7 linked regions of the Homo sapiens genome follow. The protein of the gene in region 1 interacts with the protein of each later gene in a pairwise test. Each region holds a gene or a part of one and is shown in the gene's direction. Other genes may lie near its edges. The genes, in order: LAMP2, PCYT2, SPSB1, C4orf33, RHEB, COL2A1 and TIGAR.

Region 1 (3,500 bases):
GTGTGTAGCAGAAGGAAAATAAAGTTGGCTAAATGAAGTGGGCCTAAATTATAGGGGGCCTTGGAAGCCAAGGAAAGACATTTAGCTTGATGGGGCAGGCACTGGGGAATCATTTTAGGTTTTTAAAGCAGGAGAATGATATAACAAAAGCAGAGACAGTAGCTTATAAAGAATATTCTGCAGGATTAGTTGAGAAGTGAGGAGGCTACAAGCAGAGATGCTGGCTTAAGAAGCTGTTATAGTAATCAAGGGCTGATGTAATAAATGCCTGGACTACAGGGGCATCAGTTGTTAGCAGTTATTAGGAGGAGGTGTTTAATCTGACATATTTGGATAGAAAAACTATGGACCCTGAAATGTTAACACTTCTCTCTTTCCCCTTTTATTTAAAACAAAGGGAGGATTACTTTTTAAATTACTACCTTCTATATAATAATATTTGAAACTATTTGGAATGTTAAATGGCTTCCTGAAATGGACTATTAATAATTGTTTTTGATATAGTTCAGTGTTTCAAGAATACTAATTTATGGCTGGGCGCAGTGGCTCACACCTGTAATCCCAGCACTTTGGGAGGCTGAGGCTGGTGGATCATTGGAGGTCAGGAGATTGAGACCAGCCTGGCCAACATGGTGAAACCCTGTCTCTACTAAAAATACAAAAATTAGCCGGGTGGTAGTGGTGCGTGCCTGTAATCCCAGCTACTCAGGAGGCTAAAGCAGGAGAATCGCTTTAACCTGGGAGGCGGAGGTTGCGGTGAGCCAAGATTACGCCACTGCACTCTAGCCTGGGCAACAGAGGGAGACCCTTCCTTACCCACCCCCAACAACAACAAAAAAAACTAATTTAGGCCAGGTGCAGTGACTCAACGCCTGTAATCCCAACACTTTGGAAGGCCAGGCAGATCGCTTGAGCTCAGGAGTGTGAGACTAGCCTGGGCAACATAGCGACATTCTGTCTCAAAAAATAAAAATAAAAAACTACTAATTTATTTTTAGGCATCTGATAACTGAAGTAACATTGAAGCTGCTTTTTTCTTTTTTAAATTTTTTTCGTGATTAAAATATAGAAATGTACTGGCCAGGTGTGGTGGCTCGTGCCTGTAATCCCAGCATTTTGGGAGGCCAAGGCAGGCAGATCACCTGAGGTCAGAAGTTCGAGACCAACATGGTGAAACCCCATCTCTACTAAAAATACGAAAATTAGCTGGGCGTGGTGGCGTGCACCTGTAATTCCAGCTACTTGGGAGGTTGAGGCATGAGAATCGTTTGAACCTAGGAGGTGGAGGTTGCAGTGAGCTCATATCATGCCACTGCACTCCAACCTGGGCAACAGAGCAAGACTCCATCTCAAAAAAAAATTATATATATATAAGTTACGTATATAATAAGGGTTTTTTAAAAGGCTCTACATATACATATATATATATAAAGATTATATATCTATAAAGATTATATATGTATACAGAGAATAATATAGCAGACCCATATGTACCCATTATCCAGAATTAATAAATGCTGTTTTTTTAATGTTTGTGTTACTTTTTTGATTAAAAAGATAAAACGTTGACAATACAGTTGATATTTCCTTTGTCTTCATTCCCCAGACCCATTTTCCTTCTTGCCTGCTAAGAGGCAAACACTTTCACAAATTTGGGGTATAACCTTCCTGTCTTTATGTTTGTCTTTTACTATATAAGTACGTGTTCATAAACAATACATAGTTTAAAAAAAGCTATTCATAGTATAACTCCAATATGCCTGCAAGTTGTTTTTTTGCTGATTTGCTTTTGAAGTCCATCTATATACAGCCAGTCACGTATCTATTCATTTTTGTTAACGGTGAGAAGCAATTCTGGGAAAAATGTTCTAGTTCATTGGTTTTTTGTTTTGTTTTGTTTTTTAATTCCTATGGCCATTAGGGGGTGCCAAGGCAGCATTATATGGCTGCTTGCTACATGATGGAGAGGCACAGAAGGCAGCCTATATTAAGGACCTTGGATACTTTCCTTTCTTGCTACTTCTCCAAAAGAAGCCAAACCACTTGGGTGATCATCGTCTTTTGAAGTTTCACTATACACAGGCTAATAAAAACTATATGAAATGGCTGTAACTTACTGCTTTCATACTCTGAAGATTCCCTGAAATGGAATCATCTTTAAATGTAATCCAGGAAGCGGTTCTATAAGCTCATTGGAGTTAATATAACTTACTTGGGACTAGTAAAACAAAAATAAGGATTTACTATACAAATGTATGATTAATCCATCTCTCTTGCTTCTTTAGTTATAGTCACTAAGTCCTGATGATTCTACCATAGATAAGTGTTTTCAGTTTGGCTTCTTTGCTCTCTTTCTACTGCCCCACACCATCTTAGTTTAGGCAACCCTCCCTTACCCTTCACCTTAACCAGACCATCACCCTCTGGTTTCCCTCTTAAGTGGCTTCCCTGAAAAGTTTTTCCCCCTGCTTATCCCCTACAAATTTGCTATCTTCCTTAAAATAAATTATATATGTGTTATTTTCTGCTTTAAAAACTGAGGCTAGCCCTCGACTGCTAAAAAGAAAAGCCCAAACAGGCCTTAGATCATAGAAGATGCTTCAAAGTATGATCACCTGCAACTTGTCTTTCCTTCTTAACCCCCATTTCTTTTCCTTTTTTCTTTCTTTTTCTTTTTTTCTTGAGACAGAGTTTTGCTCTTGTCATCCAGGCTGTAGTGCAGTGGGCGATCTTGGCTCACTGCAACCTCCGCCTCCCGGGTTCAAGCAATTCTCCTGCCTTAGCCTCCCAAGTAACTGGGATTACAGGCACCTGCCACCATGCCCAGCTAATTATTATCTTTTTAGTAGAGACGAGGTTTCACCATGTTGGTCAGGCTGGTCTCAAACTCCTGACCTCAGGTGATCCACCCACCTCGGCCTCCCAAAGTGCTGGGATTACAGGCATGGGCCACTGTGCCCAGCCCCTAACCCCCATTTCTTCTTCCCCCTTACTCCTTATGTTTTAGCCACAGTGAACTAGTCATGCCCTTAAGCATGCTATATCCTTTGTCACTTTGTGCCTGGGGTAGGGCAGGCAGAGAGAAGAAGAAAGCCTATACAAATATATTTATATTATCACTTTTCTCCTACCTTCTTGGAAATAGCCATTGTTAATCTTGTTTTATAGGAATTCTTACTGTTGATGAACTTTTGGCCATCAGAATTCCATTGAATGACCTTTTTAGATGCAATAGTTTATCAACTTTGGAAAAGAATGATGTTGTCCAACACTACTGGGATGTTCTTGTACAAGCTTTTGTCCAAAATGGCACAGTGAGCACAAATGGTGAGTAAAGTATATATTTCTCTACTTGGATCCTAATTTAAGAGTAGAGTATACCAGGTAGCTTTCATTGAAGTCATTATCTGAAAGCATTTATATATTAAGGTTTATTCATAGCTTCTACTAGGCTATAAAGTTTTTGTAAATAATAGCAATTCTTATTTTTGTGTATCTTA
Region 2 (3,500 bases), on another chromosome or scaffold:
GGCCTTCCTGGAGGCTGCCAGGCAGCAGGCGGCACAGCCCCTGGGGGAGCGCGATGGTGACTTCTAACCTGGCAGAGGCCCTGGCCGGCCCTCCCCCTGCTCTGCTTCTGCGCCTTCTGCGTTTGGACATAGGACTCTGCAGGGCCGCCCTCTCTAACTGGCCTGGCTCTGGAAGGGCTGGTGAGGACTCTGCCTCCTTGCCTGCCTACAAGGTGCCTGGTTTGCAGCAGGCTCTCCGCTCTTTCCAGCAAAGCTGCTCAGAGAGGGTGTCCAGCACAGTGGAGAGGCCGGAAGTGAGACGGGCAGACGGCACCTGCAGCCTGAAACGCACCGCTCCTGCGTGCGCCCCCACCTGGTCCCCGGATGCCCCCACCACCTGGACAGAGGCCACACTGACTGCCCACCCAGCTGTGGCGGGAGGTGCAGAGCAGAGGGCTTTAGGGAGCAGTGACTGCGGTCACCCCTTTAGTTCTCTGGGTGTAGACCACACCACCTCCCACTGGGCACCCCCCAACACGGTGTCCTGCCACCCAGCGCCTGGCTCCAGGAAAACACGCTTGCCTTCCTTCCCGGCAGCTTCGCCACTCTCCTTATGGACTCTGTTCTGTTTGTACATGGCTGACGGAAATCTCTTTGGTACAACCGAATAAAGCCTGGTGGCAGTGCTGCGCGGGGCTCCCAGCCCTGCTGGGAAGGACCAGGGAACCACTCAGCAAGGAGACCCTCTTGGCCCTGCCCCCACCATGCACCCAGCAGCCGGGAGTGCAGCGGGCAGCCTGGCAGTGAGTGAAACCCAGGCCTCCAGCCCTCCAAAGCCTGGGGCCACCCCCTGTAGCAGGCGATGCTAGAATAAGGAGGAGAGCCAGAGCTGAGGCTCCTTGCCCCTTGGCCCCTCCAGGGGCCATGGGATCTCTGTCTCCCACACCCCTGTCACGGCCCGCCTGGAGCAGCCCAGAGGCCGAAGAGGTTCTTACTGCAGCCTCCGGGAGGTGTCTAGGGAGGCCATAGATTGCCTGGTCTCGCCGCATTCAAAATGAGGCTTATGATCAGTACTTTTTTCAGCCCCACATTCCTCTCCAGAATGGCCTCTGCCCTACAGCACCTGGCCCATGTGGCACCCCATGGGCCTGTCCTCTGCTGTTGTGAGGTCGACCTCACGACCCAGCACAGGAGCTGGAGGCGAGGTGCACGCGAGGCTCTCCACAGCCCAGGAAGGCAGCCTGTCACCCTGCTCTCCGAGCCAGGGGCCAAGGTGTGGGGGGCACAGGCCATCCTCATCCTGCCAGGCCCCCGCTTTCAGGAGTGGGGTGGTGCCAATGCTCCCACTCAGAACCCTGGACTGCGGGGTCCCCTGAGCAGAGGGACCAGCCAGTTCCCCATAGACAGATTGGTGCTGGACAGGGGCTGCCTGGGCCCCAGGCTTGGGGAGGGTAGAAAGGCCCTGCAGTGCTGCTGCCTGGGCCCGGAGGTGGGCCTGGCCCCGTAGCAGCATTGGAGGCCAGAGCCCAAGCCAGTTCCGGAGTCACACCCAACGGCGGAGGGAGAACCTACCCATCTCCCACCTTCAGCTCTGGGGAGGCATGCTCTGGGCCTCTGGAGCCAGGGCTCAGGCCCCCAACTCTCCTCCTTGCCCCTGCACCCTCGGACTTGGCCTGGCCAGAAGGGATGGGGGCAAGAGGAAGGCAGCCAGGGGCTCCAGCCCATGCCCTCACAGATTTGGCTCTCGAGTTGGGGAGCGAAGGGCTGGGGGAGGACACTGGGAACCGGGCCAGCCGTGGCCCTGCACTTCCCCCAGGGAGCACCAAGGCTAGGCGCGGCTTCACCGCGGGGCTGGGTCGTGGCCAGCTTCGCCCCTGGGTCTGAAGACCTCTGGGCGGCCCAGGCCAACCTTGCCCTGCCGCCGCACACTCGGCTGCCTTCTCATACCCAGGCTTGGGGATTTCCAGGTCCCGTTCCCCTCGTGGCCTGGCTGCCAGTCCTCCAGCACCCCTCACTCCGAGGCCGCCTCATTTATTTATTCGTTTGCCATTAACTGCGGGGTGAGCGGAGTAGGGGAGACCTGGGGCGCCATCCCGCGCCGGAGGGGCCTGGGGTCACCGAGTGGGACGGTGGGGGCGGGGGGCCCCCAGCGGTGCCAGGAGAGGTCCGGGCTCAGGCGGCGAGGCAGTCGGCTGCGCGCAGGGACAGGAAGACGTTCGCCTTGCACTGGTAGGTCCCGCGGCCGTCGGGGAGCCGCTCGCACCTCTGCAGGTTTGGGGCGACGTCCTGGACGCACACAGCCTGGGGGGCAGGCAAGCAAAGGCTGAGGGGCCGCCGCACCCCCACCCACGTCCTGCCGCCGCCCCCCATCAGTCCCCGGCACGCCGGACTCACGAGGCTCCGCAGCCTGGGGTGCAGTTGCAGCTCCGGGGAGGCGCCGGCCCCGCCCGGGGGTTCCGCCCCTCTGTAGGGCTGGGAGCGCCGCGCGTACGGGGACCTGCGGAGGCCGGACAGCAGCCCCGCGGCGCGGCCCACCGAGTAGGAGCTGTGCCCCGCCGCTGGCTTGTACCACGCGAGGCCAGGCGGCGCCAGCAGCAGGCACAGCGCCAGGGCGGCGGCCGCCAGTGTCGCGGACCGGGCCATGGGGACGCCGGCTGACTGGTGGGCGGCGGCGTCCGGGCTCGGAGCAGCCACCGCCTGGGCCGCCTTATATCTGCGGCGAGGGCGGGCCGAGGCTGCGGAGGGCCGGGAGGGGCGGCGGGCGGGCTGGGGTGCAGCGGGCGCGCGCGGAGGAGCCGTCGCACCTCCGCATCCCAAAGGAACCAGCCGCGCGGGCGAGCGCTGGAGGCGCGCAAGGATCTGGCGCTTGGTGGGAGCCCAACGCCCCCTCAAGCTCCCCACCCATGCCGCTCGCGCCCTTCAGGCCCGGCTTGCGTGGGCCGCAGTGGCAGCAGGGGAGGGCCCACGGGCGCCCAGCCCTAGGAGTCGTCCCCCAGGCAATCCCCAGTACTCCTGATGCTGGAGAGCCAGCCACACTGCACAGTGCCCCGGGGGCGGTTTCTACCACCCTAAGGGGTATTCTTGGCTCCAGGCATCAGAGTCCATGTGGCTTGTGGGGCCCTCATTTCTTTCATGCCCACTGGGGAAGGTTCCACCAGCAGGGCTGTTACTGGCGGGGTCCTCTGGGAGGGGGGCAAGAAGGCCAGCCACACCAAGGCACTGGAGCTCCACGACTCCTGGCCTTCGATTGGAGGCCCCTCTCTGCCAGCTCTGCCCCTTGGGGGGCACCAGGCAGGACTGCCAGCCGCTCTCCTGGCAGGTGACATCAGCCTTCAAGCTCACTGTGCCCTCACCATTTCATGCTCCCCCAAGGTCCTGGTCATGTCTTCTCTTGGGTATCTTCCCAGGACAGGCACTGGCACTGGAGCCCTGGCACTTGTTTCTGGGTTCCATGCTTCCCAGGTGTGATGGTGAATGCTGAGTGTCAGCTTGACTGGATTGAAGGATGCAAAGTATTGTCA
Region 3 (3,500 bases), on another chromosome or scaffold:
TCAGACGACAGCACAAGGTCAGGTACAGGTGTGCCTCAGTCTGCCCAGGGGTGTGTTATCCTCTCCCCAGCCCTCAACACTAGATCAGTGAAATCCAGACTCTAAGGGACTTCGATTTTGGACTTTCAGTGAGTGCTCTCCCCTCCCCCAGTTATCTGATAACATCTCCCCCAGTCTAAAGTTCCACTGGCAGCCAGGTGCCCGGCTCTGTGCTACAGAGTGCTTTATGGACGTGACTTTGTTTGAATCCTAAGCATAATAATAGCGGGAAATGGTTTCATGGTTTCACGGTGCGTGCGAGTACTGGCTCTGATCTGAGTCCTTGACGCATTGACTCATGGGCTTCCTGAGGACCCTGAGAAGTGGGTTTTGCCTCCATGTCCATTCTGCTGAGGATTGCAGGTAACTTGGCTAAGGTCTCGCGGCAAGGGAATGGTGGAGCCAAAACTCGAATCCAGACTTGGCACCCAAGCCCTTCACCAGTAAGTTTGTCACCTCCACCACCTGAGCCTTTTCTTCAAGAAGCATGGGCTCATTTTTTTAGTGAAATTTTTTGTTATTATGGAAAATGTCAAACACACCAAAGTTAGAGGCAGAGTATAATGAGCGATCAGGTTTCCTCACCTCGCATGCACACACATACACATACTCACATATGCACATGCATACTTATGCTCACAGAAGATGTGCACATGTGTACACACACATACATATGCACACACATATATGCACACATACACACACACGCTGGATTATTTTGAAGCAAATACAAGATGTCAGGTCATCTGTAGCTTCTTCCTAAGAAGCATTTAAAGGAAGCATCACATCTCAAAGAGGTTGACTGTTACTCTATGCGGGGCAAGAGTCGGGAGATGTACGTCCTTTCTGACTTGGGCTTGAGGCTCCTTCCTTGCTTGGACAAAGGGAGGATGGCAAAACCCAACAGCACATTGGGGGATCTGTCCTGCTGCCAACCCCCTGAAACCTTTGGGAAGCTGCCTGTTTGCTTTGTGTTTTAAAAGTTCTGTTCATTGCCCAACGTTAAAAATAAATGAGTCCAGTGGTCATGAGACAGACCACATCAACAACAGGCTTAGGCTCTCGGGGCCTTTCTTGGAGATGGGGAAGAGAATCCGCCAAGGCACAGCCCAGCCTTGCCTGCCATTGAGGTCCAGACCTTGTGCAATGCAGGCATGGGATTTGTGGCAGGGCTGGGTGTCAGGAGATGTGACTGTGAGAATGGTTTGTCAACAAGCTCTGAATCTGACCTGAAGCTTAGCCTGACCCTCTTGAGTTTACTGCGTAGGCGATGGGTGGAGGAATCCAAGAACCTCTGCCACCCTTGGGCGTCTCTTGGAAAACTAGGGAGGCATTGGGTGATTTGAGCACAAGATGAAGAAAATATCAGGATGCAAACTCCACACTTGAGAAATGACTGCTGAGTAGGAATATAGGATTCCAGGGTTGGAAAAACCTACCTGTGACAAGGGCTTGACGGGTGCCCCAGTTGTGAACACACCTTGCCAGACAGTCAGAGTGTGGCCAATCTGGTCACACCCTTTCCAAGGTCAGAGTGAGGAGCTGCACTCCACACCAAGAGAACCACTTGAGTTTTCTAATTTATACAAGCAGACACCAAGGGAGCATGTGTGGGAGTGGATATTAGGATGTGGAACGAACATGAAGTTGGATCTGGCCGAATTTATGGATATGGGCCCACTAAGCGGAGATTCTGCACTTGATGTTGTAGCTCAGGGGGTTAAGAAGAGATCTGTTTGGTTGGCTGACTGGAACATGGATCAAAGGATGACCCACTGTGAGTAAGTTGGAGTTTCTGGGTCTCCTTTGGTTTAATGTAGAGTTAGGGATTCATAGGCTTAGGTTTCATGTAGAGTTAGGGATTCAAAGGCTTAGGGACATTGGAATGCTGGAGTGGATTTGTCTCTTAAAAGCTACTCACCCACACTGGGAAGGTTCAGAAGACAGATCTTTCACGCATACGTTGAGAAATAGATTTGTGAGGGGGCCCCAGCATCCCTGAAGAGCTCCGTGATCCAGCCCTTACAGTGGGAGCCGCAGTCACTCAAATGGAAAACTTAAATGCAACGGGAGTAATTGCATTTGGAGTGCAGCGGCCAAGTGGCAGTACTCAGCCATCCAAGGCAAGGTGAGTGTGGTTACCTAATGGACGGCAGAGGCAAAGCTGCCGTCAGAATAGTCTGACTTGTGTGGATCTATGGCATTGGATAGTTAATCATGGTGTTCCTAGAAGTGAAATAGACAGGAAACCCGTGAAATTCTTACTTGATCTTATAAGTTACTTGATTCTTTTAAGTTTTCTGTATAAGCAGAAACTTACAGGTCAAATGAAAAAAAGTCTAACTTGAATAATTAAAACAGAAAAATAATTAAAACAGAAAATCACAGCCCTCAATCAACTTCCCAGACTTAACCCAGTTTACACAACTAAGCCCCCATGAATGAATGAATGAGTGAATGAATGAATGAGTGAACGAATGAATGAATAAGTGAACGAATGAATGAATAAGTGAATGAATAAGTGAATGAATGAATGAATGAATTGGAAGCTGGATCCCTTTGAAGAAGGACCTCAGTACACTAGAGAAAGTTTATGCTATTAATTTTTCTCCTAGCCTTCCCCAAAGGGACCTGTGACCTTTTACCAGAGTGAATATGTATTGAGGAAAGGGAAATAATTAGATTGTTCGGGGATAACTGGTTACTGAACTGATACTGATTCCAGGAAACCAAAAATATCACTCACTGTGGCCCACTAGTCAGAGAAGGGGCTTATGGAGGTCAGGTGATCAATGGAGTTTTAGCTTAGGTTTGACTCCTGGTGGCTCCCGTGGATCCCTGAACCCATCCTGGGGTTATTTCCTGGTTCCAGATTCAAAGTTGACATACTTAGCACCTGGCAGAATCCACACACTGGTTCCCTGCCTTGTGCGGTGAGGGCTGTTATGGTGGGAAAGGCCAAGTGGAAACCATTAGCGTTGCCTCTGCCTGGGAAAATAGTACATCAAAAGCAACATTGCATCCCTGGGGTGGGGCTGCCGAGATTAGCACCACCATCAAGGACTTGGAGGAGGCGGGGGTGGTGACCCCCACCACATCCCCATTCAACTCTCCGATTTGGCCTGTGCAGAAGACAGATGGACTTTAGAAACTGATAGTGGATTATTGTAAACTTAACCAAGTGGTGACTGCAAAATTCACACATCTCTGGTCCCTGCTACTGCATGCAGCTGTTGATCTGACGAATGCCCTTCTCTTTATACCTGTCCATAAGGCCCAGCAGAAGCAGTTTGCATCCAGCTGGTAAGGCCGGCAATGCCCCTTGGCGGTCTGGGCTGATGGGTATATCAGCTCTCCAGCCCTATGTCACAGTTTAGTTCACAGTCATCTTGATCACCTTTCCCTTCCACAGATATCATACTGGGGCTGGGCACGGTGGCTCACTCCTGTAATCCTAGCAC
Region 4 (3,500 bases), on another chromosome or scaffold:
GCAAGGACAAAAACCTGATTTGTAAGTAGAAAATAAATGAAGATATGTTCCAAATACACGAGTTTTTTCGAAATTAATTCTTAGTGGAGCAGAAGTAACACTTTTGATCAAAGAAGACGACATATGTGCACAAGTATCTAGTAGAGTCCAATGTTCACTGATGGTCCTCAGAAAATACTTGGAAAACTTTGGACTGTCATAATCTCTCTCACTACTGTCAGTAGAGCACTTATTTTTCCATAGTGGTATGAGAAAAGTGTTGTTTGCATGTGAGAAAAGTAAATGTTGTAATAGCTGATATAGAAGTATGGTCACAAATTCATTTAAAATTTCTTTCAGAGCTAAAGGGCCAGAGGCATCAGTGTTTCCTGGTGTGAACAAACAGTCCCCTGTTACAAGGAAATCTAATCTTCAGTTATCTCTCTAGTTCTCCTCTTCTGGTAACCTCATAAGGATAAAAATATCAACTATGTTTCTAGGCAACACTGCTTACGATAAAAATGACCCTTAAGTGGCAAATTACATCTGGACTGAGAATAATTTTGGATGAACTATAAATATATGATGGAGACAGCATGGCTTTGGGATTCCCCTGTAACAGTCATGTTCCCTGTGGGAACCCTGGAAGCTATGGCTATGGAGTTATTCCAAGAGATATTGCTCTCATGGGGCAGCAGGCATTTGAGCCAAGTTATCTGCTATGCTTTCTCAATTTGAGTCTTGTTTCCTTGCACCTGTAGCTCTCACATAGGCAGACTAGAGCTCCTGGCCAGCCTTATGAATGCTTCATGGACTTCTGCAAGGACTACTCCTTTAGGGAGGAAAGCCAGATGCTGTCCTGGGGCAAGCTGTGATTGCTGCTCTATATCTCTCTAGGTATACTCACTATGGCCAAGGTAGTCTCGTGAGTCTGGGCATTTGGAAGAACCTAACAGAAACATCCTAGTGAGCATTGCACTATGGTAGATGGACATTCCTGCCTTTTAACCTGTGGAATGTGCTGCATCGTCCTTCCTCTCCCTGTTTGCCTTCTCCTTCCTGCCATGCTCTTACTTTATGCTTCTTTGTCTTTATCACTTCTAGCATATTTCTTTATTTTGCTTGATATTTTTTCCCCTTTTCCCTTTGCCTTTCTCCCCAATCCTGACATAGCTTTTACCTAGTCTTTTTTCCCCTTCCTTTTTCTTATCCTTCACTGTTTTTTCCTTAATCTCTTACTCTGGGATTGACAATTGTGATTCAAAAACTGACTTATCCTGGCCAGGTGGGCAGAATGAGACAAACATGTAGTTGCAACTGACTCAAGGTCCTCATATCAAGACGTCATGTCTCTCTGGCTCTTCATCAGCTAATACCTTCCTATATTCAGGCTCTTCATTCATACATTATTTGGAAGCTTATCTTAGGTGGAAGTACGATTATACATTGGCCAGGACAGAGCCAAGGCAGAGTGACTTCCTACAGAGTGGGGCTCCACTGCAGCATGTTAGCTAAGCCTTTCTCTCCTCATTAAGCCACAAGAGAAAGCTTCTTAATGTAGTTAAGTGGTTTTCCTCGAAAGAAAAGAACTGGGATTAATACTCTTTTACATTAACCTCTCTTGCTTCAGCAGAGAAGGGAATTAAGAAGTCTATCTTATCAATGGAACTGAAACTTTTCAAAACAATTGCTTATATGACTGATATAAATTATATCAAAGTTTGAATATAAAAACATATGCAAGAGCATAATATGATTTGTTTAAAGCTGGATGGAATGAGTTATGTTTTGAGAACTGATTTCTCCCTTCAGCTGTGAGGGAGTTATTTGCAGAATTGAAAGAAGAGTGCTTTGAGATGCAGGTGAATGTTTTCAGAGCTGAGTGTTTGACAGCTAGAGTGAGAAAACTGTACATATAAAATATATCTTACCTTTAGTATTGCTTAAAATAGAATGTTGTATTACAGTTGTGACAAAATAAATAGCCCTTCAGGACAACTATTTCACAAATGCATAATTCATTTCAATTCCCACCTTCTTTTTCTTTGCTTTTAGCCATTGCCTAGAATACTTCAAGTCTTTCAATTTTAACACACTGCTTGGAGAAGAGTGGAAACAACCGGAATCAGACCTGTGGCTAATAGAGAAATGTGATATATAGGAGTAATAGATAACCATACCGATCATTTTTTCCTCTATACCTTTTAAGATAAACAAAAAATAAATATCAATTTTTTAAGATGTCATGCATACATTTCAACAACAAATATCTTCATAGAAGTCACTGAAAATATAGTATCTGTGGCAAATTGTATATGATTAACAAGAAAATATATGATTCTTTGTAGATGATTTCATCTGTAAAGTCACAATGTTTCTCAGAGTCACTTAGTCCAGGATGTTGCATTCCCAGCACACAGTACAGTTATTCTTGAAAACTACAAGTGAAAAAGGGGGAACAATTGAGGTTGTCCAAGGCCACCTAGAGGACTGTCTTGCACTACCTTGTGATTCAACCATTTCATTCCTAGATATATACCCCAGAAAAATGACTGCTCATAGCAGCTTTATTCATAATAGCACAAAATTGTAAACAGTGAAATTTCCATCCATAGGAAAATGGATAGACAAACTACAATATAGTCAGTGGAATACTGTTCATTTAAAAAAGGACTGCTGATACATGCAACAACCTGTATGAATCTCAAAAACATTAAGTTGAGCAAAACAAACCAAACATAACATACTATCTAATTACTTTTATATTAAAGCCACTTCCAGGCAAAACTAATATTTGATGATAGATACCAGAACAGTGGCTGCTTAGAGTGAGGGCAGGGAATTCAAATTGAATGGAAAAGGGGCCTGAGGAAATTTTCCGGGGTGATTGAAATGTTTTGTATTTTGATCTGGATGATGGTTATGTAGCTGCATATATTTGTCAACATTCCTCATGCTGTATGTTTAGATTTGTGATTTTACTATATGTAAATTAATTCCTTAATAAAATACTATTATAAAATAAGCTGTAAATTAAATGGAATTAACTTCAAGTTTACATTGAGTTTATATGTTTCCATTGAACAATCACTAGTGATGGTTAAATGTGGCTTATCGACTTACTCATTTCTTATATATGTTCTCTATCTAAAAAGAGAGCTGGTGTAAGATAAATGCTAACTTTTACAAAAGGTATTATTAAGTATCCTGACTACACATCATGGTGGCAGTGTTAGGCATCTTAGATAAATTGAGAAATTATTCTTAAAACTGACAATAGCAACTAATTAATTTGATATAGAAACGATCTGCCTGTTTTAGATACGAATGGCATATTTTAAATAACCTAGGACGATTTATTTATAAATTACCTGAATAATTTTATAAATGCATATAAAACTATCAAAATAAAAACAAGATATATTTTAGAGCATCTTGATTTTAGAAGCGAATCGAACACTGTGAATCACAGTTTCAGATATAAATCATAACTATTTATAATATGGATAAAAATGAAGCAC
Region 5 (3,500 bases), on another chromosome or scaffold:
TTTTTTTTCTTTAAAGAACTTTACCATAGGGCAGTAATTCTGGGCTGTCATAAACAGTGGTTATAACCATACTATAAGTTTACAAAAATAATAGACTGCTGCTTAATCTTCTGGTACCATGATGTGATTTTTCCATAATAGTGCTTAGGACATGTGTTATGTTGACAATTTAGTTTCAACTAAGAATGAAACGTTCGTACCAGACAGTGGCGCGTGCTGTTGAAAACTGCACTGACATCAGAACTTTCTGTATGCTTTAATACGTATATAAAGCAAAGTGTCATAACGCTGCTTTATAAAACTAAAGACTACTGTGCTGTTGCGTAATAGGTACCTTTCTCTTTAATTCCTAGAGTTGCTCAGTAAATAACTCTCTTGGTCCCCAAAAGTCTGAATACCTCAATTGAACCTGGTGTTTTGATCCTCTTTTCTCTTTCTCTGTTTCTCTCTCTCTCCCCCACCTCCCTCCCTCTCTCCCTCTCTCCTTCAGATGCTGATGGCACCCCTCTAGCAACCTGTAGACTGAAGCTCAGGTCATTGTGACTGACATGCAGAGAATAAATCAAATAATATGCCAGTTTCAAATATAAAAATACAGATTTATGGGATAAATCAGCAGGATTTATAAATGTCCTGAGGTCTAGAAGGTTCTGGAGTTAGTGATGCTCATCCCTTGTTTTGAGATCACAGAGCCAATGATTTTTGTGTTCCATCCATCCTCTTCTCCCAGAAATTATGAAGGTCATCAGACTTTCCCCTAAAGTTCTAGAACAGCTAGTCATTTTTAAATATTGGCTTGAACCACATTATCACCTCCAGGCCATTCTTAAAGCTTCACTTTGTAGGCTGTTTCTGGCATAATATTGTAATCCACTCTGCGTCTACTTTGATTTCTTCAGGTAATACATGAAAAACTTTGGGTAAAGTTTGTTTGTGATGCTATATGAAGACTACTCAAAGATAATTTTTTTTCCCCACAGGATGAATATTCTATCTTTCCTCAGACATACTCCATAGATATTAATGGCTATATTCTTGTGTATTCTGTTACATCAATCAAAAGGTAAGACTCCTGCTGCCTGCTTGAGTTGATTTGCTACTCATAGATAACATTGATCCTTTTAAGGGACTGTGCTGGAATTATTAATAGTGACAATTAGAATTATTAGGCTACATGTTTTTTAGTGATTTTCTCGTGGAGCAACTGGATTGCTGGGAAACATGGCCCACTAGATGTTCTGTTAGTTACACCAATAGGATAAAAGGCTCTTTCTTACCTCAAGCTACCTAGAAAAACAGTGGTTCAGCATGATCTAAGCTTTTCTGCTAATTGAAATGGGAAATGCCTAAATTAATTTTACTTTGTGTGTGTTTTTACCATATTAAGGTGAAATAGACTTTCTAATAAAATGTGGGGGTTTGGGTTTGTTCAATATCTTATCCTTTGAATTTATGAAATAAGACCTTTTGGTAATAGAGTCTGACTTTACTACATAAAAACAAAGCCACTATTTTTATTAATAAGAATGGATATCGGTTCCTCTAGCTACGTATTTCATGTCTCCTCTTATCGGGGGATGGCATGTATTATCAGGAGGAGCAGTGGTCTGTGTCTGTTAACAGAACAGCTGGCTGTATACAGCAGCGGAGCTCTGGGCATTGGTGACAGCTTATGTTTGAAGACTTTATGAAAATATCAGTGCCAGTGGAGGGCGTTTGGTGGCTACGTAGCATCTATTGAGTGTGTGCGACATGTTAGGGAGTTTGCTACTCTCTTTGCCTACATATGATACATTACTTATTTCATCATTACCTTAATCCTTCATCAGAGATGTTTTATATCCCACTTTACGTGGAAAGAAACTGAGTGACAGAGACCTAAAGCAGCTTGCCCAGGGCTACATAATGACATTGCTGGGATTCATAGCCATCTCTCCAGTTCCACAGTCAAGGCTGACACTGTCCAATAGAACTTACTGCGGTGATAGAAGTGTTTGCTCTCTGTGCTGCAGGTGGCTGTTTAACTAAAAATGGAAAATTAAGCCTCCCTCGGTTACAGTAGCCCCATTTCAGGTGCTCAGTAGCCACATGTGGCTGGAGGCTGCCATGTTGGCCAGTGTCTGGGTTCCTTACCCCCACATACTCCACTGCCAGTGAAAATTCAGTCTGCTGCTCTGTGAGTGTGTTGTTTAACATTTTTCTCCGTGGCAGAGAAACATACTTTAGGGTGTTGAGTTCTAGCTATAAAATGTTTGAGTACCATTCTCGGCCATTCTTATAAACAGACCCCATACTGTCAATCCCCGAGAAAGTTTACACCTGAATCAAAACCAAGTACCAGAATTATGTGTTCCTTAAGGAAAATTGAGGAACTGTGAAAAATAGAAAGTGAGGGTAATCATTCTTAATCTAATTACCTAAGCATAGATACTGTTAATATCTTGGTATATGTTTTTTCTGGTCTTTGTTTTAGTCTGCATGGATTGTTTTAACATCCTTTTATTTGCTCTCTGAATGCTGTTTTATGGTTTATATTTTCCATGTTTTTATATTTTTACTTACCATGTAATATATATTTTTCCATATTACCTAGTATTTGAAATAGTAAATGGCTTTATAATATTTCATGTTCAATGATAGATGGATATCTCTCTTCCTGTTTAATGTATTTATTTATATTGTCACTGAAAGCAATGCTTGGATTGGATTTTATGCTTAAAACCACTGTGTACTTAGTATTTGGAAACATGATCATTTTCTTACTGACTTATAAGAGCACTTTAAATAGTAAAACTATTGGCCATTTTTATACAAAGATTTTTTTAATTTCAGTTGTATATTTTTAAAATGTATATACTGCCACGTGTAAGGCCTTGTCCAGAACAAATTTAGTGTACCAATAATCTAATGAATGTTGGAAGTTCATGTTTGTTTATGAATTTCCATTATTTTACTAATTTACTTGAAAAACATGATTCAAAGATTGTTTTGTTGTTGGTAAGTACAATTTTATCCTAGCTGATTTTTAGAAAACAGTGTTGGTGTTACTTTACAAATTGTTACTTTGAGGCATTAAAGTAGTAGGTAGAAAATTTTCTTAGTGCATCCACTGATTTTTTTTAAGTCTCTTTTTTGGTGTGCACAAATTAGATGACATTATAGAATCAAGTTGAAAACATAGCATGTGCCACTGGGGAAATTGAAAAATACATTGAGCTGGATTAAAAATATGAAAGTGTGCTCACCAAGGACCTTATGTATTTGAGAAAACACTGGCCTAGTGCAAAGCAGAGGACAAAAAGCTTGGTACTGTGTCTTCTCAGTGGCACTGTTGCAAGTTTTGACCAAGTTTCTCCTTACTAAAATGGGTGTGTTTTCTTTTGTTATATGCCTTTTACCTCAGTAACTCATAGTTTAATGAGCATTCTCAAATCTCAAACATGAGTGTGAGAAGAGTGGTGTTTTGTTTTTTAGAAACCTATATGCTGAATACACAAATA
Region 6 (3,500 bases), on another chromosome or scaffold:
CCCCTAAAGCATCCTTCTTTAGCTTCTAAGGAGAGGCAGAGACTGACAGGCAGGACTCAGCAGGAAAAGGTACCCCCCTGACCTGCTCAGTCAGGCCCTAGGCCCAGCTCCACCCAGCCTGTGGCCCCCAGAGTTTCGGTAAAGAGTTCCCTGGGCCTTAAGGAACCTTGAGAGAGCATTTGAGGGGTGCCACCACAAACTTGGCAGAAAAAACCCTCCCCCTCCAAGTCCAGTCCTAGAGAAGGAGCTGGCAACCTTGCCTTGCTTTGTAAGCAAAAGCCTCTTAGGGCTTGAGCTCAGATGTAGTGTTTGAGCTGTGGCTGGTGCCCTGCCCCATCAGGGAGCCAATGGTAGACATCCTATGGGCATCTTTGTTTTCCGTAAGAGCAGGCTGTCTGGGGATGGGCCAGAGGAAGAGGCAACCTGGAGTCAACCAAGAGGAGGCCTTAACCAAGCCTTAACCACAGAGGTTAACCAAGCCTTGAAAGCGCTTCCCCCTGAGCAGGCAGGAAGCACTGAGTCCACATGGTTGCCTCGCTGTTTCATTTCCTTACACTCAATTCTCTCAGTCTTTAAATGATCACTTGGCCTTGAAGTTACGGATATTTGGGGTCTGAACTGAAGTTGAAGAAAAGAGAAAATGATTTAAGCTTTGTTTAAGATTAGGGGCCAGGTGCGGTGGCTCACGCCTGTAATCCCAGCACCTTGGGAGCCTGAGGCGGGTGGATCACCTGAGGTCAGGAGTTCCAGACCAGCCTGGCCAACATAGCAAAACCCAGTCTCTACTAAAAATAACAATAAAAAAAATAGCCAGGTGTGGTGACACATGCCTGTAATCCCAGTTACTCAGGAGGCTGAGGCAGAATTGCTTGAACTTGAGAGGTGGAGGTTGTAGTGAGCCAAGACCGCACCACTGCACTCCAGCCTGGCGACAGAGCCAGACTCCGTCTCAAAAACAACAACAAAAAAAGATTAGAAGAAGCCCATTACTGCCTTCTGGCCACCCACTCGCACAGACACCAAAACTGCAGCCCACACCTCGCCATCCTCGTGCTCTGCCCTGGGACACCCCAGGCACAGTGTGTCCTTCGTTTTCTGTAAGGGTGGGCTGGGAGCAGGGACGGACAGGGCCTGTGGGCACCTCTCATGGTCACTTCCTTCTTGCTCACAGGGTGCCCGAGGCAACGATGGTCAGCCAGGCCCCGCAGGGCCTCCGGTAAGTTCATTTCATCCTCAGCAGGTCATTGTTGCTGTGCTTTAAGTCCCGTTAAGCAGCCCAAGGCAGTCTGCAGGGTGTATTGGGTGCAACCACAGCAGCACTCTGATGTCTACTGGAAAGGGGGAGGAAAGAGAAGAAGTTTGTAAATATCAATTGAGCATATCGATAACAAGCTTTGAAGCATGGGCTCATTTTCCTCAGCCATCCTTTCAGCAGTCTTTTTAGAGGAGGGAGGTCAAAGGAGTTTCTGCTTCTCACCACAGATGTAGTCAGAAACTTGCTTTGCCTTCTGAAGCCAGGCAAAGTTTCCTGGGGACGCTGGCAATGGGGACAATTTTCATCCAAGGCCTTTTAGCCACAATGGATATGGAGTGAAATCAGTACAGAGGAGGGAAGGAGTGTGAGGTGTCGGGGTGGCTCGCTTTGGAGGCCAGAACTGGCATTCACCTCTCTTCTCATCCGCCTACTCTCTCCAGGGTCCTGTCGGTCCTGCTGGTGGTCCTGGCTTCCCTGGTGCTCCTGGAGCCAAGGTACGTGCCCTGTTGTCCAGTCAGGAACTTCTGGGTGCCGAGAAGCTGTCCTTTCCCCGTAACCCTTGCTCATTGCTCCCTCAACAACCACCTGCTCCCTTCTGAGAAGTAGCTCCCCACCACCCCACCCACTGGCCCCTCCATCCAGGCAGGGCAAAAAGCCAGACACTCGCAGTCTCACCTGGAGGGAAAGTAAGACAGAAGATAAAATGTGGGAGATCCAGTTACAACTTTGGAGTGGGGAAAGGTGGACAGAGAAGAAGACGGGGATACACCATAGGCCTGGCAGGGGCAGAAGGCCAGGAGTGGCAGCACAGGGAAGCAAACCTAGGGGAGACCCAACAGCTGAGCAAGCTCGGGGCCCTGACGGGCACTGGAGGGAACTGGGCAGGGAAAAGGGCACAGGCAGGGAGCCCCTGCTCCCCTCTGGGTTTCTGCTTTATTTGGGGTGCCTGGCTCTTCCAAACCATGTTAACGGAGTTCTCTGGAGGATTACTAGAGGCCAGTGGGAGGCCAGCCAGTTCAGGGACAGGCCTCGCAGCCCAGGAAGGATTCCAGTGTGAACGTCCCTGGGAATGAATAAGGAGCCTCCATGTGTCACTGGCATCAGGTTGCTTTTCCCCTCCTGGGGGTTTCCATGGCAACCAGACAGTGTCTGAGGTCCCGGAGCCGGGTGAAGGAGACCCATTGTGAAGAGGGACAGCGGAAGGTGAGGGGGGCTGACCTTTTGAAAATAATAATTACCACAGTGAAGCAGGAATGTTCTGAGAAGAAACCTGAGGAGGCTCTGCCCTCTCTCCAGGTCAGCAGCCCTCCCCAGGGACTCTGCCATCTAGAGTGGGTTGTAATTTTCAGGAAAAAATGAAAGTAAAAGCACAAGCCATTTTGTGGGGAGGGGGCTTGCCAGAGGCGCCCGCTAAGGGGAATTGGGCTGTATTGAGAGCAGGGAGGGGCAGAGTCCCCATGTGCTTTTGCCTTGGCTTTCTGGCTTACTGAGAACAGACTGGGGCCGGAGCCAGGGTGTCACTGTTCACCCGTCAGCCAGATGGGAGTGAGGTGGTGCTCTGAGCTGGGATGTTCAGAGACTTAGAAGGGACCTCAGCTCCTCAATAAAATAGAAAAACAGGAGGTGGGGGAGAGAGCGGTGTCCGTCCATCATCCCACGGTGCCAGGATGGCAGGGTCCCCAGCCCACGCTTTTCTGATGGTGTCGATGGAACAGCAGGTTGCCCATTGCTGTAGTATGTAGCTGTGCCGTGGCATGTGGAGGCTCACTGTGTAGAGATGAGGTAAGCAGTAGAGGAGGCAGGCGTGGGAAGTCATCAAGTCATCAGCTCGGTCAGGCAGGGAGAAAAACGGCAGCGTGAACTGTGTGTGAACGCACATGTTCATGTGCAGGGTTGGGTGCATGTGCATAATTTAGTGCTGTGCTTGCAGCTGGCCCTGAGCTATTGCCCACCCACTAGAGGTCTGTGTCCCCTCTCTTCTTCTTCATTTCATCCTCCCTGTCTCTTCCCAGGGTGAAGCCGGCCCCACTGGTGCCCGTGGTCCTGAAGGTGCTCAAGGTCCTCGCGGTGAACCTGGTACTCCTGGGTCCCCTGGGCCTGCTGGTGCCTCCGTAAGTGCAGCTTCTCTTTGGCCTGGGGGGGTCTGGGGTCTGTGGCTTTGGAACTCTTGACTCTGTACTTTGCTCTGACAGTTGTGGGCTCCAACCACCAAACCTTCATTCTGGCCCAATGCCTGTCCCCACCT
Region 7 (3,500 bases), on another chromosome or scaffold:
TTTTGTTTTTGAGGGCGCAATCTCGGCTCACTGCAGCCTCCGCCTCCTGGGTTCAAGCGATTCTTCTGCCTCAGCCTCCCGAGTCGCTGGGACTACAGGCACACACCACCACGCCCAGCTAATTTTTGTATTTTTGGTAGAGACGGGGTTTCACCATATTGGCCAGGCTGGTCTCAAACTCCTGACCTCATGATCCGCCTGCTTCGGCCTCCCAAAGTGCTGGGATTACAGGCATGAGCCACCGCGCCCAGCCGAGGATGTTACTTATATTGAAATAACAGATATTTTATTCTTGGTCTCAGCAAGATTTTGAGGCTGAGACAGGAAGTGAATCCAATACATGGTAACTATTTTCTAGATTAAAAATGACAGGTTCCCCATGTTTGCCCTGAATGCTTCTGCTTTATCCATCTGAATGGTAGAGGCTAATATCCTCTTTCATGCCCATTTTATAAGATTCTGAATGAATTTTGGAGTGTAGGAAATCTTTTTTTTTGAGATGAGGTCTTGCTTTTGTCGCCCAGGCTGGAGTGCAATGGCATGATCTTGGCTCACTGCAACCTCCACCTCCTGGGTTCAAGTCATTCTCCTGCCTCAGCCTCCCGAATAGCTGGGATTACAGGTGCCTGCCACCACGCCTGGCTAATTTTTGTATTTTTAGTAGACACAGGATTCTACCATGTTGGCCAGGATGGTCTCGGACTCCTGACCTCAGGTGATCTGCCCTCCTTGGCCTCCCAAAGTGCTGGGATTACAGGCATGAGCCACTGCATGTGGCCTAGGTAATCTTTTATTAATATTAACAACAATGATAATGGCAAATCAGTGCTGTTGGTTTTTTACCAAGGTATAAATAGTTCCATGTATTTTTTTTTTTTTTTGGAGACAGAGTCTTGCTCTGTTGCCCAGGCTGAAGTGCAGTGGCATGATCTTGGCTCACTGCAACCTCCACCTCCCAGGTTCAAGCGATTCTTCTGCCTCAGCCTCCCGAGTAGCTGGGACTACAGGCACTCACCACCATGCCTGGCTGATTTTTGTATTTTTATCAGAGACGGAGTTTCACCTTGTTGGCCAGGCTGGTCCCGAACTCCTGACCTCGTGATCTGCCCACCTCGGCCTCCCAAAGTGCTGGGATTACAGGCGTGAGCCACCGTGCCTGGCCAGTTCTGTGTAATTTTATTTCTTTATCATACGTTTATTTTTTAAGCTAATACATCTACATATTTAGAAATCAAAACAATTCTCCGTAGTCTTCCTATTCTTCCCCCAACCAATAGGTGGCCACATTTATTAGTTTCATGTTTATCCTTCCATTGTTTCTTTGTGCAGATCCAGATGTTTATTTCCCTCCTTTCTAAAAGGGTAGCTTTCTTTTTATATTACTCTATACCCTGCTTTTTCTACTTAATCATATATCTTGGTGAGCATTCCATATCTTTACATATAATCTCTCTCTTTAAAGGACACATTTACATAGGATTCCATTAGGTAGATATGTCACTGTTTATTTGTTAATATAAATAATGGTTATTCTGGCCATAGTTAAGGAATGAGTTATGGACATTTGGGTTGTTTATAATCTGTTGCTATTAGAAATAATACTGTAGCTAATGATCTTTTTTTTTTTTTTTTTTTTTTTTTTGTGAGACAGGGTCTTGCTCTCTCACCCATACTGGAGTGCAGTGGTGTGATTGCAGCTCACTGCAACCTCTGCCTCCCGGGTTTAAACAATTCTTGTGCCTCAGTCTCCCGAGTAGCTGGGATTACAGACGCCCGCCACCACGCATGGCTAAATTTTGTATTTTTAGTAGAGATGGGGTTTCATCATCTTGGCCATGCTGGGCTTGAACTCCTGACATCGTGATCTACCCACCTCGGACTCCCAATGTGCTGGAATTACGGGCATGAGCCACCACGTCTGGCCACAAATAATCTTTTAAATATGAGTGAATTCAGTTATTCCCAGTAATTGGGTTATTGGATAAAAGGGTAAACAGATTTGTCATTTTGATAGGTATTTCCAGATGACCCTCCCTAGGTAAAAGCACATTCACTGAAGTTCTGTCATTTCCCAGCATTTTCTCCAGGCCCTGGGCATGTTGAGGGTATGCAATCCCTGCTTGTGCCTTTAAGGAACTGGAGCCAGGATAGACACAGAGCTAAAAAGTCAATTAGCACACAGATGAAAACTTATGTTGGTAGTGCCAGGGGACCATGGGAGTATAGAGTGTGGGTATTAAATAGAGTAGGTAGATGGGGAATGGTACTGGGGAGGGAGACTACCTAAAAGAACCAGTCTTGTGTTGGGTCTTAAAGAACATTCATATTGGCCAAATCCAGCAATCTGTATCTTGGCAGAGGTTGGCATACAGCTGTTTTTGTAAACAAGCGGCAAGATTCCAGGATGAGGCCTGAGTTTGTGATTCTGACTTCCAGGTCTGGTAGATTTTTTTTTCTAGATCTGAGTAAATCAGTCCTATGTGACATTTTAATTATTATAAACTAGTGCTTCACTTAAAAACAATGGAGCGATCATTTTCCATCGAAATCAAGGAAATGCAAATTAAAATTAAAGTGAGATGAATTGTTCAGGTACCAGATTGGTACAAATTGAAGAAACCTTCCATCACTGAATCTTGTTGAGGGTGGTACACCACACTACAGGGTGGTGTAACCTGCTATGACACTGGCATTACCTAATAAAGCTGGTATTTGCATACCTTATGGCCCAGCAATTCTAGTGGTAGGTTGGGTCAGCAAACATTTAATTAGTGCTCAAAGAAATTTCAGCTGAATTCTCTTTGATTCTACTTTTCATGTATTTGAAAGTTGCATTATTGTTAACCTATCCTGCTGTCTGTCCAGTCTTGCCCATGCACTTCCCGCCCTTTTCCCCCTCCAGCCTCAGTAACCCCAGTTATTTTCTGACAAAGTTTCCAGTTCTTTTACCCTTCCGGTTGGTTCAGATTGCTTTGATTTGTTTTGGTATTTTAGTTTTTAAAAGTGTAGTACTCAAACCTCAGTTCAGTGTGCAGTTAGTTGGTCTGCGAGATAGCTGTCAGTACTACAAAAAATAACTGCTGAAGACCTAGGAACTAAGAGAAGGCAGGGGGTTCTGAAGGTTTGTGCACGTCTCTCCCATTCCATTCAGATTCTCTTTCACTTGCTCATTCAGTCCAGCAATGAATAGACTGACTCTCACGTTTTTGTTCCTGCTGCCAGTAAGAGTAGTTTTGATCAATATATTTCTTTTAACAAAATTATTTGGCTGAAATGTTATTTGCATTATATTTTTTAGTAGGATTTTCCACCTGCAATTCACTTAAGATTGGTTCCTGATCTACACGTTTTAGTTTGGAGTAGTTTGAAATTCTTAGCTCTTCATTAAAGAAGACAATTGCAAATATTAGTTTAGAATAAATTGTTTTTACAGGTTGGATTATGAAGTGTGTTACAAGTTTCACATGATATTTTTAGAGTATCACCACACTTGATTGCTC

The links.
Region 2: the proteins of LAMP2 (region 1) and PCYT2 interact in binary tests that used the Homo sapiens proteins (3 or more experiments, as listed by UniProt).
Region 3: the proteins of LAMP2 (region 1) and SPSB1 interact in binary tests that used the Homo sapiens proteins (3 or more experiments, as listed by UniProt).
Region 4: the proteins of LAMP2 (region 1) and C4orf33 interact in binary tests that used the Homo sapiens proteins (3 or more experiments, as listed by UniProt).
Region 5: the proteins of LAMP2 (region 1) and RHEB interact in binary tests that used the Homo sapiens proteins (3 or more experiments, as listed by UniProt).
Region 6: the proteins of LAMP2 (region 1) and COL2A1 interact in binary tests that used the Homo sapiens proteins (3 or more experiments, as listed by UniProt).
Region 7: the proteins of LAMP2 (region 1) and TIGAR interact in binary tests that used the Homo sapiens proteins (3 or more experiments, as listed by UniProt).

What each region holds. Positions count from the first base shown.
Region 1 is NC_000023.11:120,448,797-120,452,296, reverse strand, and holds part of LAMP2 (lysosome-associated membrane glycoprotein 2 isoform A precursor), read left to right. Parts: intron 1-3,168; coding exon 3,169-3,327; intron 3,328-3,500. UniProt on the Homo sapiens protein: Lysosomal membrane glycoprotein which plays an important role in lysosome biogenesis, lysosomal pH regulation and autophagy.
Region 2 is NC_000017.11:81,901,400-81,904,899, reverse strand, and holds part of PCYT2 (ethanolamine-phosphate cytidylyltransferase), read left to right. Parts: coding exon 1-67; 3' UTR 68-2,151; coding exon of another isoform or gene 2,152-2,280; 3' UTR 2,281-2,373; coding exon of another isoform or gene 2,374-2,622; 3' UTR 2,623-3,500. Other genes in the region: NPB (neuropeptide B preproprotein), read right to left, coding at 2,152-2,280, 2,374-2,622. UniProt on the Homo sapiens protein: Ethanolamine-phosphate cytidylyltransferase that catalyzes the second step in the synthesis of phosphatidylethanolamine (PE) from ethanolamine via the CDP-ethanolamine pathway.
Region 3 is NC_000001.11:9,295,894-9,299,393, forward strand, and holds part of SPSB1 (SPRY domain-containing SOCS box protein 1), read left to right. Parts: intron 1-3,500. UniProt on the Homo sapiens protein: Substrate recognition component of a SCF-like ECS (Elongin BC-CUL2/5-SOCS-box protein) E3 ubiquitin-protein ligase complex which mediates the ubiquitination and subsequent proteasomal degradation of target proteins.
Region 4 is NC_000004.12:129,109,652-129,113,151, forward strand, and holds part of C4orf33 (UPF0462 protein C4orf33), read left to right. Parts: coding exon 1-21; intron 22-339; coding exon of another isoform or gene 340-427; exon of another isoform or gene 428-479; coding exon of another isoform or gene 480-498; exon of another isoform or gene 499-691; intron 692-2,034; coding exon 2,035-2,140; 3' UTR 2,141-3,500.
Region 5 is NC_000007.14:151,474,896-151,478,395, reverse strand, and holds part of RHEB (GTP-binding protein Rheb), read left to right. Parts: intron 1-980; coding exon 981-1,063; intron 1,064-3,500. UniProt on the Homo sapiens protein: Small GTPase that acts as an allosteric activator of the canonical mTORC1 complex, an evolutionarily conserved central nutrient sensor that stimulates anabolic reactions and macromolecule biosynthesis to promote cellular biomass generation and growth.
Region 6 is NC_000012.12:47,987,477-47,990,976, reverse strand, and holds part of COL2A1 (collagen alpha-1(II) chain isoform 1 precursor), read left to right. Parts: intron 1-1,171; coding exon 1,172-1,216; intron 1,217-1,695; coding exon 1,696-1,749; intron 1,750-3,267; coding exon 3,268-3,366; intron 3,367-3,500. UniProt on the Homo sapiens protein: Type II collagen is specific for cartilaginous tissues. It is essential for the normal embryonic development of the skeleton, for linear growth and for the ability of cartilage to resist compressive forces.
Region 7 is NC_000012.12:4,327,713-4,331,212, forward strand, and holds part of TIGAR (fructose-2,6-bisphosphatase TIGAR), read left to right. Parts: intron 1-3,500.